Homo sapiens: one gene and its partners. The protein of the gene in region 3 purifies or fractionates together with the protein of the main gene of each other region. This does not show direct contact. Each region holds a gene or a part of one and is shown on either strand. Other genes may lie near its edges. The genes, in order: LAMTOR3, FKBP15, NUDT12, TARS2, VWA8 and NCOA5.

Region 1 (3,355 bases), on a different chromosome or scaffold from region 3:
AACATAATTAATATACTCTTTCAGCCACATGAATAAATAATGAGTGTTTCTTGTAGGTATTGGTTTGGAGATTGTTTTACGGTAGTATGAACTGTTAACTGGAAAAGAAACCTGAGATTGCAGTCAGCCAAGATTGTGCCACTGCACCCCAGCCTGGGCAACAGAGACTCCGTCTCAAAAACAAAAAAGAAAAGAAACCAAGAAACCTCAGGCATGAACCTAATTTAATCTCCATGAAAGAGGTACTACAGTTCTAGAATATACCCTTTATGTTCAGGAATGCAGTCTATCATTCAGAGTTAATTTCTTTCTAGGCTCTTTGACAATCAGTTTTTCCCTGGATCAGTTCAGTACATATGCATTGAGCACCTGTGTGCCAGTCAGCCGAGCTATCACATTGCACAATTCTAAGAAGCACCATTCATGTCTCATCATATTTCTATGCTCTGGGAGTTGCCTTTCACATAGAATATGTGTGATTGTTATCCCTAGAATTGTGCAGTGAGGCAATTGGCTAGGTGCTGTGCTGCTTTTTCTTTCTTTCTTTTTTTTTTTAAGAGACAGAGTCTTGCTGTGTTGCCCAGTCTGGAGTGCAGTGGTGGCATGATCTTGCCTCACTGTAACCTCTGCCTCCTGGGTTCAAGCTGTTCTCATGCCCCATTCTCCCTTGTAGCTGGGATTACAGGCTTACACCATCGCACTTGGCAAATTTGTGTATTTTTAGTAGAGACAGGAATTCACCATGTTGGCCAGGCTGGTCTTGAACTCCTGACTTAAAGTGATCCACCTGCTTTGGCCTCCCAAAATGCTAGGATTATAGGTGTGAGCCACTGCACCGGGCCATGTGCTACTTTTTCTTCCTTCCATCCTTCCTCCCTTCTTCAGTGTAAATATGAGATTAATTTGTGATACCTTACTTTAAAGAACTTAGAGTTCAGTAAAGGAAGCAGGTATAGAAAGTGCTATGATAAAGCTATACATAGGATGGTATAGAACCACAGACTAGGGGCACTTAAAATGGGCAAGAAAATAGCCTTTGTAAATAAAATAGAGGCAAGAGATATAATGCTTTACCTGCAAAGAGCTATAAATACAGCCATGTACCATATAATGATGTTTCAGTTAGTGAAGGACCACATACGAGGGTGGTCAGAACAGCAGGCTATACCATATAGCCTAGGTGTGTAGTAGGCTATACCATATAGCCTAGGTGTGTAGTAGTAGGCTATACCATATAGCCTAGGTGTGTAGTAGTAGGCGATACCATATAGCCTAGGTGTGTAGTAGTAGGCTATACCATATAGCCTAGGTGTATAGTAGTAGGCTATACCATATAGCCTAGGTGTGTAGTAGGCTATACCATATAGCCTAGGTATGTAGTAGTAGGCTATACCATATAGCCTAGGTGTGTAGTAGTAGGCTATACCATCTGGGGTTCCTGTCAGTACAGTATGATGTTCACATAATGATGAAATCACCTAACAAAGCATGTCTCGAAATGTATCCACATTGTTACGTAACACATGACTGTAGTTAATTGTTACAATTGAAATACTAGATGTACTCATTGAAATCCAGAATTCCCATTATCTGGATTATTTAATATCGTTCAGGAAATTTTTGCCAGTGCAATGGTGCATGAAACAATGTCTTTTAGAAATGAGGTGGCCAGATTTCTATTTGCAGATAATAATTGTATATCTAAAAATCCTAGAAAAAGAAATGATAACAAATGGAGCTACTTAACCTTTACATGTTGAATGCTGCCACTGTTAAAATTTCTGAGGGGGTATAATAGATAAACTATCCCATAGTTCATCTGGAAAAATAAGGTGGTGAAAATTGCTAAGAAATTTTTGAAAGGGTAATGTAAACCTAGATTAACTGTTTTTGAAAGGTAGTACAGAACTGAATGCACAACTAGATATCAATGGTATGTACTCACCCAGAAAAAAGACTTCAGTACATACATGTGAGGGCTTAAAACATTGTTATAAAGACGGGATCACAATGGGAAAAGGATTATTCAATAAGTAGGGCAGGCATTCTCTATGCCTGCTAGGGAAGTGTGACTTGTTATACTCTTTATGTACAGCAATTGGCAGTCTGTGAAACTTTTAAATTCATATACATAACCTTTTGCCCTGCAATTCCACTTCTAGAAATTTATCCTACCAAACAAAGCACATAGATGTGCAAAAGTATGTATTTACAAGTATATTCTTTGCAACTTGGTAATGTCAAAGAATTGGAAGCAACCTAAATATCTGCCATAGGTAGGATAACCATATGCTTTGGCTTTTTGAACACTACCAGTTTATACCTGCTGTTCTTGGATAATTATTAATAGTGCTTTCATTCTCAATGTCTCACTTTAGATAATAAATTACAGAGGATTGGTGAAACTAATTTGCCCAATGGAAAAAGGAATGAAGAAGTGCTTTAGGTACTGAGATGAAAAGATCTCTAAGGCATAATAATGTTTATTGAGAAAAGCATGGTGTCAAACTGTATGGCATGCTACAATTGATGTATAAGAAGAAAAAATGTGTATGTATTCCTATTTGTTTGTATATGGTAGACTGTCTCTGAAGACATATATGGAAGAACCTGATCACATTGGTAGTCTCCAAGGAGCAGAACTAGATACCTGGGGGATAAGGATCCCAGGAGTGAGCCTTTTCATTGTAAACTTCATTGTACTTTGAGTTTTTAACTGTTCAAAAATAATAAAATTAGAAATAAAATATTTCAACAAACAATAAAATGGGATATTTGGGGAAGAAAGTTGTCTCAGGGCTCTCCAAAGAAGCAGAACCGGTTGGACATATGTGTATTTATTTCAAGGAAATGGCTTATACTATTGCGGGGACTGGCAAGTCTAACATCTGTTGGACGGGCCAGAAGACTGAAAAGTCTCAGGTAGGAGCTGAGGCTGCAGTTTCAGAGCAGAAGTTCGTCCTCTTGGAAACTTCAGTTTTGCTCTTAAAGCCTTTCAGTTGATTGGATGAGTCTCACCCACATTATGGAGGATTATCTCTTTTACTTAAATTTAAGGGATTATAAATGTTAAGTACATCTCCAGAATACATCCACAGCAGTACCTGGATTCATGTTTTAATAACTAGGCAATGTGTCCTAGCCAAGTTGATGCATAAAACTAACGTTCACAGTCCATTCCTAGTCAGCTTGGCACCTGTATGCATCTTTTTTGTTGTTTTTTGTTTTGTGAGACAGAGTCTCACTCTGTCACTTAGGCTTGAGTGCTGTGGCCTGATCTCAGCTCACTGCAACCTCTGCCTCCTGGGTTAAAGCGAGTCTCCTGCCTCAGCCTCCTGAGTAGCTGGGATTGCAG
Region 2 (3,559 bases), on a different chromosome or scaffold from region 3:
TCCTCCGGCCTCAGCCCCCCTAGTAGCTGGGATTACAGGCACACGCCACCACACCTGGCTAATTTTTGTATTTTTTTTAGAGATGGGGTTTTGCCATCTTGGCCAGGCTGGTCTCAAACTCCTGACCTCAGGTGATCCACCGGCCTCGGCCTCCCAAAGTGCTGGGATTACAGGCATTAGCCACCTCGCTCGGCTAATACACTCTTAACTTACCTGTTGCTGCCGTTCCCTGGCCTTTCTTAGGCTGTTTTGGGGCTGTGTACTGGAAAAATTCATTTCCATGGCCAGCAGCTGCCTGATCCAGTCCAAAAAGTGAGGCCAATCTGGCACTGTTAGTAGAAAATGAAAAATGAAATTTCACTGATATATCCCAAACCTGGAATTATTATAAAAGCTGCTCATCTCCAACCTTGAACAAATACCTCCTTGACTACATCCCACCATTCAATACTAGAAACACTTCAAGCTAGGAAAGCTGATTTAAAAATTAAAAAAAAAAATAAATAAAAATATTGGACACAGCAAAGTGTCTTTGAAATCAAGATTGTGTATGTGATTTGAACATCATCAGTTGACCCTGTTTATCCCCAGGACCTTGGTCAAGGCATTTCTTTTTTCTGGACCTCAGTTTTTCCACCTATAAACTGAAGTGACTAGTTCAGGTGCTCTCTATGGTATCTTCAAACTGTAAATTCTTGCTTTTAGCAAATCACAGTTTCTAGTCACCCTTACTGACTACTCCCCCTCCTGCTTTTTACTAGTTTATTCAATTGAAATGAAGCTATGATACAAACTTACCCATCAAACATGGTCCCTGCCATCCTTTCATCTAACAGAACCATTCTTTCATCATCCCTTGCAAGAAATCTTATCCCCCACCATTCCACTGAAACTGATCTTGCTAAAATCACTAAAAATTTTTTTGTTTGTTTTTGTTTTTTTTTAGATGGAGTTTCACTCTGTTGCCCAGGCTGGAGTGCAGTGGTGTGATCCCGGCTCACTGCAACCTCCGCTTCCCAGGTTCAAGTGATTCTCCTGCCTCAGCCTCCCAAGTAGCTGGGACTACAGGCGCGTGTCACCACACCCGGCTAATTTTTGTATTTTTAGTAGAGACGGGGTTTCACCATGCTGGCCAGGCTGGTCTCGAACTCCTGACCTCAAGTGATCCACCCACCTCGGCCTCCCAAAGTGCTGGGATTACAGGTGTGAGCCACCAGGCCCATCCGATCACCAACAACTTCTTTGCTACTAACCCCAGTTTACCAGTCCTTATTTCACCTCATACCACCTTTTTATACTGTCAATTAACTTGTTCTTCTTCAAATTCTTCTCTTGACTTCTGCAGGGGTTGTGGAAGGAACAGGTCCAAATAAGATATCAATAAATACTAATGCAATCCCTGGCTTGTTTTGCCCCATTTCTCTGGCTTCTCTTTAACCCCTTGGGCTCTTCTTCTTCATTTGCCCAATCTTTAAATGTCCATGTCTCCAGGGCTTCATACTTTCTCTCCCTTGGTAGGGTTTCATACTGTCTCTCTGTACTCATTTACCTTGGTATCAAATGCTATCCAAATGCTGGTGATGCTCAAATCTGCATTCCCAGCCCAGAACTTGCTCTTGAGTGCCAGAAAACATAGATATCCCACAGGCAATACAAATGTAACATGTCCAAACCAGAACTCATATCCTCCAATGCCCACTGCCCCAGCAAAACCTGTTCTTCCTTTTGTGCTCCAAGACCACTGCCAGGTTCAAGGATTCTAGAGAAGGACTCAATGGTCTCAGCATATAGTGGTACTCATGGCTAAGATCTATTACAAAAAAATATACAGAAAAATCAGCAAAAATAAAAAGTGCACAGGTCGGCTGGGCACAGTGGCTCATACCCGTAATCCCAGCATTTTGGGAGGCTGAGATGGGAGGATCACTTGAGGTCAGGCGTTCGAGACCAGCCTGACCAACATGGTGAAACCCTATCTCTACTAAAAGTACAAAAATTAGCCGGGCGTGGTGGCACGCACCTGTAATCCCAGCTACTCGGGAGGCTGAGGCAGGAGAATCGCCTGAACCAAGGAGGCAGATGTTGCAGTGAGCTGAGATCACGCCACTGCACTCCAGCCTAGGCAACGAGAGCGAAACTCCGTCTCCAAAAAAAAAAAAAATTATCCAGTCTTGGTGGTAAACGCCTGGAGTCCTAGCGGCTTGAGAGGCTGAGGCAGGAGGCTCAACTGAGCCCAGGAGTTTGAGACTACAGTGAGCTATGATCATGTCACTGCATTACAGCCTAGGTGACAGAGCAAGACCCTGTCTCCCCCGAACCAAAAAAAAAAAAAGGATTACTAGATTATCATAAATGTCATGGGAATGAGACTGGTGGCGTTATAAGAAGAGGAAGAAAGATCTGAGCTAGTATGCTTGCCATGTGATGCCCCATGCCATCTCAGGACCCTGCAGAGAGTTCCTACCAAGAAGAAGACCTTCACCACATGCAGCCCTTCTGACCTTGAACTTCTCAGCCTCCATAACTGTAAAAAATAAATTCCTTTTCTTTATCACACTTTAGGTATTCTGTTATAAGCAACAGAAAACAGACTAAGATATCAGCCAAGAGCCAACCTTGTAAGCAGGGCTTTTTAGGAATAATAGTCTCAGGCTTGCTGTGTTAACTCTTTAAAACAATTTTTTTTTAGAGACAGGGTCTCAATCTGTCACCAGGCTAGAGTGCAGTGGGGCGTTCATGGCTCACTGCAGCTTTTGCCTCCAGGGCTCAACCAATCCTCCCACCTCAGCCTCCCAAATAGCTGAGACTACAGGCATGCACCACCACACTCTAGGGATTCTCCCACCTCAGCCTCTCAAGAAGCTGGGACTACAGGCATGCACCAAGAAACCTGGCTAATTTCTATATTTTTTGTAGAGACAGGGTTTCACCATGTTGCCCAGGCTGCTCTTGAACTCCTGGGCTCAAGTGATCCACCCACCTTGGCCTCCCAAAGTTCTGGGATTACAGGTGTGAGCCACTGTGCTTAGCCATGAAATGTATTTCTTAAATGGTAAGACCTGATCTGAGGTGCAGAATGGATGTTGTGTTAGCAGGCATGAAAACAACATTAATCTTATACATCTCCATCAGAGTTTGTGAGTGACCAAGTACACTGTCAATGGGCAGTAATAATTTGAAAGAAGGCTTTTTTTTTCTGAACAGTGGGTCTCAACAGTGCATTTAAAATATTCAGTAAACTATGCTATAAACAGATGTGCTGTCATCCAGGCTTTGTTCCATTTGCAGAGCACAGGCAGAGTAAATTTAGCATAATGCCTAAGGGCCCTAGGATTTTTGGAATGGTACATGAGCAACGGCTTCAACTTTAAGTCACCAGCTGCATTATCCCCTAATAAGAGTTAAGCCTGTCCTTTGAAGTTTTGAAGCCAAGCATTGACTTCTCCTCTCTAGCCATGAAAGTCCTAGATCTTCTTCCAATAGAAAGCTGTTTTGTCTACACTGAAAATCCGTTGTTTGGTGTAGCCACCATCACCAGTTCTCTTTGCTAGAACTTCTA
Region 3 (2,277 bases):
GTTGTATCCACATTAGCAACACAGTTCCAGGACCAGCTATCTATTGTTGTTATGTGGGATTAATTTGGCTTATTAACAAACTTATTCTTCCTCCTTCCATCTTGGTCTCTCCCTTTGTTATCCTATTATTTTCTGTCTTCAGCCAAATCCCTAACTGGGTCTTTAAAAGAATTTCTCATTTTTCCAACTAAATAAAATATGTGGGCTTCTAACTCTTCATGTTCCATCAACATGTGAAAATATCAAAATCCAACAATTAGCAGTATTAGACAAGTAATAAAAATTAGATATATCGCTTTAAACCTGAAGAACAAAAATTATTGACTTTATATATGTATGTATATATGTAAGTCTGTTTGTATTTGACCCCAAACTATACTTTAAGATTCAAATCAAAGTTTTAAGTCTCCCAAACACAGACACTTTTAAAAAGGCTTTTGCATTTCTTGTACATTATCAATTCGAAACAGGTTAACGACTGAAATCCAGCTTTTCTCATTTTTCAGGACACTTGTCAAAACATGTTAAACACACACACAAAACAAAATAGATTTTAAAAATTTAATGTATTATTACATTCATTTCCAGTAGAATACATTCACGGCACTATCACATCTACTATTCTTTTGAACTGGCCATTCCTTCTATTTACATAGCTTTTCACCTCTCAGAGGTTGGCAATTTAAGAGTTGTTATTAAAATAATAATTTACCTAGATGCTGATTTTTTCCCAAGTAAGGATTAAATATCCAAAACAAAATGTATAACTACACTTGTTGATACTTTATATTCTACTTTCCTATTTTAACATTATGAAAACCTGGAATTTTACAATGTAATCTTAGAATCTGCAAGTATTAAAAGTACATTTAGAGTAAAACTGAATTTCAAGATGCTCTATTTCATAATAATCAAGGTACATTATTTTCCATATACTTATGTAGCTCGAATTTTATTATGTATCTAAATGTCCTCTGTCAGTTTTAATTTGGTTTAAATTCTTGATACCAATAAGCCTTCATCAATTCCTAAGAAAATCACTGCTCATTAGTAAAATAAAGTTTTATCTGACAGTTATCTTTTATTTAAGTTAAATAAATGTTAAGTATCTAAAATTTTAATTAACAATATTTGGTAAATTAAATTTATTCTTATCATTCCTTCTTTTAATTTTGTCTATATATATTTTTAGTAATAGCTTCTAGTTCCTTTTACAGGGAGAATCGTCCTCTGCATTATATAGTACAGACTGTTGTAATTAGTTATGTAACTTTCACTAATTAGGTAAATTCACCTTTCACAATTTCTTTTTCCTTATCTATAAAATAAGGAAAGCTAATTTCATATATTATCCTTAAGGTCTCTTGTAGCTCTAGCATACATTAGTAAAGATGCAAATTATACAAATTTTGATATTCATAAACTATAATAGCTATTAAATCAATTTCAAAATAGCCTTTCAAAATGTGACTTTCTATGTTGCAAAATTGTGAACTACTATGTTTTGCTTTCTCTAGAATCTTACTGATTCAGCTCTAAAATATACTTACTTTGTCAAGGCTTCTTAGAATGTGTTGAAATAAGGTCAAAGCCAAGATATATTTGAGCATAATAAATAGTATTGGTAATGATTATACAATTTTTTGTTAACACAGATACATCACTCATCACAAAATGAAATAAAGCCAATGTTTTAAATTAAATATGTAAATCTGCCTGGGACTTATTTAATATCCGACCTTTGAGGAGAATTCCTTTCAAGTTTAATTTCAGTGCAAAAGCAGAGAATCTTGGTTTGTCTTAATAACAGCTTTAGGTATAAGTAACATATAAGTAGATATGTTAATTAATTTTAGGTCTAAAAGAGAGGTCCCAGATATAATAGTATGCTTTTCTCCTTCCATGAGGGTGTGGTATTGAGATCACTATTAAATTATTAAATTAGAAAATTCTTAACACTGGTCAAATTAGACGAGTGGCGACACTATAACACCTCCACTGCTAGAACAATGGAACCCCCAGGAAAGAGCAAGTGGGACTACAATGGGGAGATGAACAAAAACCATATATTGACAACTTAAAGGTAACAAAAGGACTAAAAAATCAATGCCAGCTAACTCAAGCTAATACAAGCTAAAAATTCATTAAAATTACTTTGATTCATTTCTCAAATCAGGAACTTTCTTCATCATCAGTTTAATGCTTACAAGAGGCACTGAAATTTATGCACATTTCTAGAACATCTTTCCAACATGATGTCTCTTATTAGAAAAATGG
Region 4 (3,559 bases), on a different chromosome or scaffold from region 3:
AAACCTCTCCAGGAACTTCCCTTTACAACAACTTCTCCCTCCAAATAGACTTCCTCTCATCATAGCATTTATTTTATTTTTCATTTTATTATTATTTTTCTGAGATGGAGCCTCACTCTGTCGCCCAGGCTGGAGTGCAGTGGTGCGACCTCGGCTCACTGCAACCTCCGCCTCCTGGGTTTACAGGTGCCTGTCACCACGCTGGGCTAATTTTTGTATTTTTAGTAGAGACAGGGTCTCAAACCCCTGACCTCAGGTGATCCACCTGCCTCAGCCTCCCAAAGTGCTGGGATTATAGGCGTGAGCCACCGCCCCCAGCCTGTTTTATTTTTACTTTTTGGGACGGAGTCTTGCTCTGTTGCCCAGGCTAGGGTGCAGTGGTGTGATCTTGGCTCACTGCAACTTCCCAGGTTCAGCGATTCTCCTGCCTCAGGCTACTGAGTAGTTGGGACTACAGGTGTGTCCTAACACCTCACCCGGCCAATTTTTATATTTTTAGTAGAGATGGGGTTTCGCCACGTTGGCCAGGCTGGTCTCGAACTCCTGACCTCAAGTGATCCACCCACGTCGGCCTCCCAAAGTGCTGGGATTACAGGCGTGAGCCACCACACAGGCCTCATTTATTCATCTTCTAACTCCACCCTCAGGCCCTACTTTACTGAAAATGGTCCTTTGAAATCCAGCAGCCTTTTTACTAAATCCAGTGGACACTTTTCAGTCCTTTTTTCCCCTTGGCTTCTTTTTTTTTGAGACAGGGTCTCACTCTATCACCCAGGCTGGAGTGCAGTGGGGCGCAATCTCGGCTCACTGCAGCCTCTACCTCCTGGGACCAGGTGATCCTCCCATCTCAGCCTGCTGGGTAGCTGGGACCACAGGCACAAGCTACTGCACCCGGCTAATTTTTTTTTTTTTTTTTGGTAGACACAGGGTCTCCCTGTGTTGCCCAGATTGGTCTGCCATGTGTTTTCATCCTTATCCCCAGCCTCTGCCTACACTGTTCCCTCCTGAAACACATCTTTACTTGGCCAACACTCACCTTTCAGATTGGAAAGTGATTCCTGCAGGACACCTTTTGTAACCTCCCCGAGTAATGCTAACCCCAGCTAACGTGCTCTCTTGGTACCTACACAGCACAGATCTCGCAGCACTGATATGGCCTATTTACCTTCAGCAGCCCTCACTAGATTGCAGATGCCAAGAGGGCAGAAAGTATATTGTTTTTCTTTATATCCTACGTAAGTTTAAAAATATTTCTTTGTGGCCGGGTGCGGTGGCTCACGCCTGTAATCCCAGCACTTTGGGAGGCCAAGTGGGGTGGATTGCCTGAGGTCAGGAGTTCGAGACCAGTCTGGCCAACATGGCGAAACCCCATCTCTATTAAAAATACAAAAAAATTAGCCGGGTGTGGTGGCGTACACCTGTAATCCCAGCTACTCGGGAGGCTGAGGCAGGGGAATTGCTTGAACCAGGGAGCTGGAGGTTGCAGTGAGCTGAGATCACACCACTGCATTTTAGCCTGGGTGACAGAGTGAGACTGTCTCAAAAAAAAAAATTCTTTGTATCTATTAAATATTTACTAAAACAAAGCAAAAAATAAATAAATACAACACTAACCAGGGTCCCAAGCTTACCTTAGGTCCATAGAAGGCACCATCTCCAGAGTTGAGGTCCCAGGGTTCTCCAAATTCCTTCAGGGCCTGTTTAAGGACCTTTGAAGGAATGAGACAAGAGTGGAATACATCATCTTAGACTTCAAAAGCAACACATCCGGTCAGTCCCCAACAAATGACCCACTCACCAGATGCCTCTGAGAACCTTGATTACTGTATTCTCCACTCCTTCCCACCAGAGAGTGGTTTATCTGCCTCTATTTCTCTACCTCCTACTCACCTGTTCGGCCTGGTCCCAAAGGCAAGGGTCCCCCAGGAAGCCAGATGGCCGGGTGGACAGTGCCAGGCGGAAGGAGAAGCCAAGAACGGCATAGACGGAACGGAGGAAATCAAGACAGCTTTGGATCTCTGCTTCCAGCTAGGGGCAGGAAATAAGGGTCAGTGAGCTGTGAGCCCGCTAGAGATCAGGGATGCTGGCAGTTTGAGGAAAACAAAGGGCAAAAACAGAGAGGAAGCGGAAGCAAGCTGGGGGTAGAATGTAGCTGAATTATAGTACATACAGGGGGCAAATAAAGATCAGGGGTTTGCAGGTTCATAGGGAGAAAGAAAGGTGGTTTAGAAAAGCTTTGGTGGAGCCAGGGAAAGGCCACCTGATCTGTTGTACAGAAGATGTGAGCGTCATCCTGCTGGAAGCACCGCAGTCGGGTCAGTCCCCCCAGACCACCAGAGGCTTCGGCCCGGTGTAGAGCCCCAAAGTCAGCTAGTCGCAGGGGCAGTTCCCGCCAGGATCTGGGCCGGTGGGCGAACATCAGGCTGAGGTTGGGGTGCAGAGGGGTCAGGGCCATAGGGAGGACTAGCCCCCGAAGACTGCTCCTCCACCCAATCTGCTTGCCTACTTTCTCTGCACCATCTGCTATAACCCTCTCCAGCCTCAGCACATCCTCCCACTGAGTCCTGTCAATCCCACTCATCACAGTCTGAGCCCTGAGGTTCAAAAGTGGATTTCTCAGTAACACAATAACAGACATCGTTTACCATTTCCCTGTTCTGTGATGGTCACTGAGCTGAAGGAGGAGCCTTAGATAGCAACTTTAAGGAGACTGAGACCTAAAGAGGTAAAATGAGTTTCCCAAATTTACATGGTTAGCTAGGGGGAAGACTGTAGGCTCAAATCGGTGTCCCAATACTCTTTCCAAGGTGCTTTCTTTTTTTTTTTTTTTTTGAGATGGAGTCTCGCTGTGTCACCCAGGCTGGAGTGCAGTGGCGCGATCTCGGCTCACTGCAAGCTCCACCTCCTGGGTTCACGCCATTAGCCTGCCTCAGCCTCCTGAGTAGCTGGGACTACAGGCGCCCGCCACCGTGCCCGGCTAATTTTTTGTATTTTTAGTAGAGACAGGGTTTCTCCATGTTGGTCAGGCTGGTCTCAAACTCCCGACCTCAGGTGATCCGCCCGCCTCGGCCTCCCAAAGTGTTGGGATTACAGGCGTGAGCCACCGTGCCCGGCCCCAAGGTGCTTTCTATTATTTAATATTTAGCAACCTGATTGTAACCCTAGCTCCCAGCTTACCAGTGTGCAGGGCAGTTCATAGGCTTGAGGGCGAGTGTATCTGTGATATGCCTGGTAGAATCGTCACTCTGGGAGCTGGGAGGCCTGTCAGAGCCTGGGGGCTGCACGGCAAACATGTCTTCCTGATAATGCTCCCAGTGCCCTGACTGTTCCCAGAGCTTCGTAGAAAACAGTGTGGGAGTTTTCACCTCGGAGAAACCACGATGGGCATACTCAGCCTGGAGAGGAGGGTACAGACATGGAAGGTCAGAGTAACTGGAAGGAAAGCAGGTAGGGTGTCAGCTGTGTGATCTTCCTGGGCCCTCAGGCCATGCTGATTGCAACCACAACCTATTAAATACCAGGTCCCATCTCTATGCTCCCCGACTGCAGACCACACAAT
Region 5 (3,559 bases), on a different chromosome or scaffold from region 3:
AATGGTTCAGGAAAAAAAAAAAGAAAAAAGCACATGCAAACAAATGTGGCAATATATTAATAATGGGTGATTGTAGGTGAGGGGATTATGAATGTTTTACTGTTTTTCAACTTTTTTTTACATTTGAGAATTTTCAAAGTAAAATGTTCTAAGCAAAAACAAAAGATTTCATAAGAATTTTCAAAATAAAATGTTCTAAGCAAAAACAAAAAGATTTGATAAAAGTATAAGATTTGATAAACAGGAGGAGAAATTCTGTTCTGGATGTATAGAACAATGTCAACAATACCTAGGCTCCCTGACTCACATGAAACATACATATATACATACATACATACATACATACATACATACATACATACATACAAGTTTAAAAATAAGTCTCTTGCCTAAGATAGTATTCCCACTATCTTGGATGGTGCCCTCCTCCACAGGGTCTCACTGAGTGTTACAAAAGCTTCCTAGTCATTCCCTCACTTCCAACAAAGGTGTCTTCCTCCAACATAAGTCTGGTCACATTCATAGCCCACCAACTTAATATTGTCTGATAAGCCACTTTTTCCATATCATAAAATCCAGGAAACTTCATTCATCATGCAAAACATTTCACAATAGCGGTCTGACTTCTCCCTCTACCACACACACTTGCTTTAGGGATACAACTTATTCTCATTCTCCAAAGATACTAGGCCCTTTTGTGATTAAACACATTTGCCTGTGCTTTGACTTCCTGGGCCTTTTATCACTCCAGACATGACCGCCATGCCCTTTGTGAAACTGTAGTGGACAATGTCTGTACTCTATCAGATCCCCTCAGATCTGTTTGCATTCTCTCTTGTGCCTCCTAGCTTTCTCTTCCAACAGCAATTGCTGTAGGTCTTTCTAAGAAGACGATCCTTGGGCTCTTGAAGCCACCCTTGCACACATGCTGGGAGAGCAGTTAGTGTCTGGGAATTTGTGTCCCCTGAGACAACCATGACACAGAGACTGATGGAAGCTAGAACAGTGTGAAAGCCCTAGCTCCCCTAACTCAGGTAAGGACAGCTCTGAGGCCTAACTCACACTGCAGCACACCTCTTACTTGATCAGGCTAAAGCCTTCCTTCCCTCTGTAGAACTTTACTGAGATTGCATGTCTAGCTCCTACTCCAAAGCTGAAAGCTCTTTAGGGGCTCAGAACATGTCCTTGGTCTCTGTACAGTTTACTGCACTGCACAACAAATTAATCTCAGGCCTTACAATATTTATAGAAGAGTATGACAAAAGCAAACTGAAGTCATTAATCCCTAATGATTAACTTTCAAAATTTTTAACATATTTGGGTATGCCAGTCATTAATTTATTTTACTTACCAAGATTTGAACCGCAGCTGCTAAACTATCTAAAGGAAAGTCTGGAAGTCCAAGAGTAGAAGATTCTTGGGAACACAGAGTTGTGGCAAAGGACAAGAGCTGAGAAACTCTAAGGGAAAAATGATATTAAATTTTAATAGTTTTAAAATATAAAATGTGTAAGTTGTTAAATATAAAATACAGGGGCCAATTTAATTAATCTAAAAAAGATCCCTAATATTAATTCTTAAGGAACAATGGTTCCGCATCATAATATCCTACTTAAAACTCAGAAGCTGATTAGATGCAAATATATTCCTAAATTCATCACAATATTTGAGGTTTTTCACCACCTGGTCCAAATCTACCCTGCCAGCCTCATCTCTCACATTTCGTAATCCCAAACCTAAACTCTAGCCTCCAAGAGTTTTTTATGGCCCTAAAAACAAGGCATAAACTCTCACATTCCATGCTTTTAAAACAAACAAACAAACAAAACAAAAAAAAAACACTTGTTGTGTTCGAATTTCTTGATTCCACTCTCTATCTGGCAAAAACTTGCTCATTATTTAGGACCCATTTCAAACACCAATGCTTTTATGAAGCCCTTATAAAGTCTCAACTAATGCCCCCAAATATTTTCAAATTATGGCACTTACTATACCATGTTAACCAAAGCTATTCACATATCTTTCAACTCTATTAGATCTTGAGTTTCCTGCCAAAGATATCTTATTAATTTTATCACCAAACATCCTAATACTGAAAAATTCTTATAAGAATTCTAGTTGTTGAATGACTGAATTAATTAATCAATCAATCAATGAACAGGCAAAACAAATTCAATATTCAGTGTCCAGACATTTATAAAAATATACTTACTTCTCAGCAGAAACATTGGCTCCAATTGAATATAACAACTTAAGTTGGTCCTAAAGTAATACAGAAACATATTAAATTAATTAACAAGAAATGTAACAGATTAAATGCAAATGTTTTGTAGATACAATCCAACCTTTTAATTAAGCAGACACTAAATATTTAACAGCAAAAAATCATTTATTGATACATTTCATTTTCTAAAAGAAAAGCCAGCCTTTTAAAAAAAATCCTTCAAATAATGCCATAATAATTTTTCTTCCTAGTTTCCAGAGCTTTTCTTTACTCTTTATTCTCATATCTTTCCATGACCTACTCAGGAAGACATTCAAAACTGCAGTAACATTTTTATAGCATTGAAGTTCTTGTTATAAATAGAAAAACTGTTTAACAAATAAATTATCCTTGGTCTTACTTACCTTGAAGGGTAAATAATAAATATCCCTGGCTTGAAATCGAGAACGAAGAGGGGGGTCTAATGGATTCCCAGAATACCTTGGCACTGGCAAGCCCAAGGCAATCACTCGGAAATTTTCACTAACTCGGACAATTTTCCAAGAATCCAACTCTTTTTTGGTATGATCCTATAAAAGTAAGAGATCCGGAAGCTATAGCATAAATGATACAAATCACAACTGTAAGAGCTGCCAAGTCCAGGGACTTAGGACTTGACTGTTGAGAAAACTGTATTGGAGAACACTCTCAAATCCATACTGTCAAGGAAGGCAGCAAAGTGAAATCAGGTTCAGGATGCCAGGGCAGGCTCACAACATGAAGACTGGGGTGTTTGAAAGGAAAAGCAGTTAACACACCAAGGAATAAAGGAGACTTGGGTCAGATCTCCAAGCCTTAGTCAGTAACACAGAGGAAAACAGTCAGGGGGTAAGGAAAATACATGACTAGAGGTTGTAACAAAGGTAGTCCCCGACGGGCAGATCACCAGCAAAGCTGTGATTGATTACCAGTGGACCTTAAATAGATAATTATGTTTATGGTTATTCCTAGCAAAGCATATTACTAGCAATAACTAACATGTTTTGGAAACTTACTATGTGGTAAGCACATTCCATGGATTTTTCTCATTTAACTTTCACCAGAATCCAATATAGACTATCTCCTTTTTATATGAATGAATGAATCAAAGTTCAAAGGAGTTATATAACTTGCCCATCGTCCTGCAACTAGCATACAGTGGAGCTTAGAGAATGGAAACAGTATGGGTTTTAGAGTCACAAATCCTGGCTCAACTGCTTGATGTACACTTTTACTAAATGTTAGCGTATGCATGGTATTATACCTTTGGAACCTTAGCCTTCTTAGTAGGAAAAATATCACCTACATTATTGTGAC
Region 6 (3,559 bases), on a different chromosome or scaffold from region 3:
TCATTGTCTTAAAACTTCCAATATCCCATGAAGCAGGGCCTCCTGTTAGTGTGTCTTGTGTTGAATTCCACTGGATAGAATCTTCCAGAATAACATGCAGGAAAGAAAATTATTATTATTATTTTTAATAAACAAAGAATATGACCTGTTAACATCTACAGATAACCAAGAATAAGGACTGGCGTTTGGTATAGTAGGGTTAGGTAATAAAACACTCCTCCTAAGTTGTTTTCATTAGAGAAGGCTGGCGTATAGAACTAGATATGGGAGAAAAGTAGAATCACATAAGCTTAAAGAAAAGCAAATTTGTATAGCTAAAGCCTGCTTTGCTAAAAACCAAGAATACCTGCTTTACAAAAATTGAAGTGAATAATAAATACCATGTACTAAGAAATCTATGCCCCAAAATAATACCTGACAGTTTTCATATGACTTAAAGCTAAATAAATACATTACAAATTTCATACTTCAGATGAATGAAGAAATAAAAGTGCTTTCTGCTGCAGTAGAGTTTGTTCCCCTTTTTCCGTATTAAACAATTAATAGTGTATCTAATGACATCAAATGGTATTAAGTACTCACATAATTCGAGTGCTTTAAAATAATAATTATGTATTTTAAAAATCCCAACCAGATTCCTATCACATGAAAGACCACAGCAATAACAAGAAACTTAGAGGTCTGGTAGAGATTTTATGCTGCTATTTTGCCAACTTTTGAGTTCCTGATCAAATGAAGGTAATCTTCAATTCCATTTTAAATCAGAAGTCTCTAATTTGTCTAGAAAAATGGCTTCTGACAAAACTGAAAATAATATAAAGCTAAATAGTGAAGTATATCTTAAATTGATTCTTACCTTTTCAATTAAGCAGACACAAGATATAATCCTTCTATTTTAAAAAAAACCTGAAAATATTTTCTATGTAAGACTTGGCCAGTAATATCTGACCATAGCTTTGCTACTGCATGCAGTACTTTCACAATTTACAACTCTTAAAGTTTATAATGGTCTAAATTACAAATTATATAATGACAGGCCTTATAGGGAATATCTAGTTCTATTATACGTAATTGTGAAGAATACTAGTTCAGGTTTATGACTTACTGAGTCTGTTCACTTACTGTGTACCACTTTCTAATTATATAGGTTGGCTATGATTCAGAGAGAAATATAATATCTTTGAGTATTTTAAGTAGTTTTCAAGGTGTCTCTGGAATACACTGGGTGTGTATTAAGATAAAAAATATACATAACATAACTTCAGCAGGAGTTCATATATTATTAAATGGTCTTGTGAATAAAGGAAACTCACATCTAAACACTGACTAGACCTGGCAAACATTCAGGTTAAGAGTACAACACATATAGTATTACTTTAATTGGTAGGTTTCTATTACCAATAATTTGCTCTCTACATATGAAAAGGAATATTACACTGTATAATTATAGCCAGTTTCGTGAGCATCTACATACAGAACTGGAGAAATCACATGGTCATGTATACTATATCTTTGGAACAAAACCAGTTCTAGTTAGAATGAAGGACATAAATATTTTACTTTGAAGCTGGTGGAATCGTTTTGTAATTACTTAAAAGATTAAAGAATATTCAAGATTATATCTTTAAACCATTTTGATTGTAATTTGCCTCGTAGTATCTATTTTCATTGGGTAGTCCAAAGTATTTATATTTGACAGCATGGGATGTTTCTTCTGCAAAAACAAGAATTCTCAGATAATTGTCTCATTTTAGGGTTTAGTAAACTTTTAGTGTAGTATGTCAAGTATCTGTTTATTCATCTCTATTTAAGAGTTCCTTAAATTTCCATCTGGGCTGACGTATGGAGAAAATGAGACCTGGATTTTTTTTTTTTTCCTATCTAATAGAATTGCTCAGATTAGGGTAGGGCTGGGGAGTTTTCAGTGAGAGTTGTAAAAACACAACCACCAACATTACTGCCAATCCCCATACACCCAAAAAATCCTAACACATGTGCACATAGAACTTTTGGGAAATCCATGAGTTCAGAAATACAGAAGAATAAATAACTTTAAGGAACTAATCACGGAGAGCAAAGATTCAAGAAGTCAAGAAAAAACTTCCCTCATCCTATTTTTTTTGTCACAGAATTTGAAAACCTGTCAGTTGGAAGCAGAGGGTTCATTTAAAAAAGATTTTCTTTGAAAATGCAAATATTGAGAATGCTAAAGCACCAACTCACGGCTTTACATAAAAGGAAGAAACCAGAAAATAATCCAGAAAACATGTAGGAAATGACAGAACTGTTTTAAACCACAAAAGAATGGGGTGAAGAATTCCCAAAGAAAGACACAGTATCTAATCTATAGTTTTATTTTGTATTAAATAATCAGATTATTTTCTCCTAAATCCTTATAGAGAGATATAATCAACACCAAGCAAATAGAAATGGTGTTAATGTAAAGAAGGGAAAAAAAGGTAGAAAGACAATTTGGAGATCTTTCTGGACATCAGATGGGGAACTCTGGTTGGAGAAAAATTAATCAACAAGAGGGAAGTGGCAACTTGGGAATCTCTTCCAAGGAGAGGTCTAATGTCTCCTCTGAATAGAAAAGGGAAGAAACGGTACTTCTTTCCCCTTCTGCTATACTTTATTCTGGCCAACTGCCCTTAAGACCAAAAGTCATCTCTCAGTGTCTTCTCCACTTCAGTTTGGGTGATACTTCTATACTTTGTTAATTATACTAGCAATGTGAATGCCATTCAAAATCATCATAATCACCATGAAGTGCTTTATCTTGGCCTGAATATCTATAGTGTCCAAGTGGTGGTCTGAAAACAGTTAAAAGCACTTCTCAGTTAAGAATTTTTAGACAAGAAAAAGAGCTTTACATACAAGGAAAAGAACTGGAAAATAATCTAGAAAACATGCTGGAAATGGCAGAACCATTATAAACTACAAAAGGATGGGGTGAAGAACTCCCAAAATATACAATATCTAATCCACAATTTTATTTTAGACTAATATGCCAGACAGGGGTCACAAAATGGTCCTTGGATAATGCTATAAATAAAAATGCATGTTTCTTTCACTCACAGTACCAAAAACTACTTTGTTCTACTTATTTTTTAATTGTACAATCATAAAACAACTCTTTTCACCTTAAAACCAGATTTTATAGTTCATAAGCTACAGCCACAGAAAACAATGAGGACTAGGAATAACAAGAGCGGTGTCAAAGAAAATTTCCAGGAGGCCATTGCTTTGGACTGAGCTCCTGAACTAGGCCCAAAGACCAAACCAAATTCATGATGAAGTTCCACGCTATCAAGCCAAGACAAAGATCTTTTCCTGACGTTCTGCGAAATCAGGAGATAAATAATGGCCAAAACCACAAATAGGCCAGTTTTAGCCAGCATGAAAAGGAAGTCTGCACTGCTTTACCCTTCACAAGAAAAGTAACTCTGAAATGACCAATCCGCTTTTTGCTCCTTGTCTCTGCTTTCCTCAGCTCCCTTCTCTGTTTATAAAGCCAAACGCCTCTGCTCAGCTCATTGGAACACTTGTTCTATTTTAT

Evidence for each region.
Region 1: the proteins of NUDT12 (region 3) and LAMTOR3 fractionate together in Homo sapiens (co-fractionation; one large-scale study listed by BioGRID). This does not show direct contact.
Region 2: the proteins of NUDT12 (region 3) and FKBP15 purify together in Homo sapiens (affinity purification with mass spectrometry; 3 studies listed by BioGRID and IntAct, with this or other methods). This does not show direct contact.
Region 4: the proteins of NUDT12 (region 3) and TARS2 fractionate together in Homo sapiens (co-fractionation; one large-scale study listed by BioGRID). This does not show direct contact.
Region 5: the proteins of NUDT12 (region 3) and VWA8 purify together in Homo sapiens (affinity purification with mass spectrometry; 3 studies listed by BioGRID and IntAct, with this or other methods). This does not show direct contact.
Region 6: the proteins of NUDT12 (region 3) and NCOA5 purify together in Homo sapiens (affinity purification with mass spectrometry; 3 studies listed by BioGRID and IntAct, with this or other methods). This does not show direct contact.

The regions. Positions count from the first base shown.
Region 1 is NC_000004.12:99,877,798-99,881,152, reverse strand, and holds the end of LAMTOR3 (ragulator complex protein LAMTOR3), read left to right. Parts: 3' UTR 1-2,817; downstream 2,818-3,355. UniProt on the Homo sapiens protein: As part of the Ragulator complex it is involved in amino acid sensing and activation of mTORC1, a signaling complex promoting cell growth in response to growth factors, energy levels, and amino acids.
Region 2 is NC_000009.12:113,211,264-113,214,822, forward strand, and holds part of FKBP15 (FK506-binding protein 15), read right to left. Parts: intron 330-3,559; coding exon 214-329; intron 1-213. UniProt on the Homo sapiens protein: May be involved in the cytoskeletal organization of neuronal growth cones. Seems to be inactive as a PPIase. Involved in the transport of early endosomes at the level of transition between microfilament-based and microtubule-based movement.
Region 3 is NC_000005.10:103,548,308-103,550,584, forward strand, and holds the end of NUDT12 (NAD-capped RNA hydrolase NUDT12), read right to left. Parts: 3' UTR 548-2,277; downstream 1-547. UniProt on the Homo sapiens protein: mRNA decapping enzyme that specifically removes the nicotinamide adenine dinucleotide (NAD) cap from a subset of mRNAs by hydrolyzing the diphosphate linkage to produce nicotinamide mononucleotide (NMN) and 5' monophosphate mRNA.
Region 4 is NC_000001.11:150,497,366-150,500,924, reverse strand, and holds part of TARS2 (threonine--tRNA ligase, mitochondrial), read right to left. Parts: intron 3,396-3,559; coding exon 3,178-3,395; intron 2,424-3,177; coding exon 2,261-2,423; intron 2,029-2,260; coding exon 1,891-2,028; intron 1,710-1,890; coding exon 1,632-1,709; intron 1-1,631. UniProt on the Homo sapiens protein: Catalyzes the attachment of threonine to tRNA(Thr) in a two-step reaction: threonine is first activated by ATP to form Thr-AMP and then transferred to the acceptor end of tRNA(Thr). Also edits incorrectly charged tRNA(Thr) via its editing domain.
Region 5 is NC_000013.11:41,884,569-41,888,127, forward strand, and holds part of VWA8 (von Willebrand factor A domain-containing protein 8 isoform a precursor), read right to left. Parts: intron 2,794-3,559; coding exon 2,629-2,793; intron 2,263-2,628; coding exon 2,213-2,262; intron 1,461-2,212; coding exon 1,352-1,460; intron 1-1,351. UniProt on the Homo sapiens protein: Exhibits ATPase activity in vitro.
Region 6 is NC_000020.11:46,079,910-46,083,468, forward strand, and holds part of NCOA5 (nuclear receptor coactivator 5), read right to left. Parts: intron 1-3,559. UniProt on the Homo sapiens protein: Nuclear receptor coregulator that can have both coactivator and corepressor functions.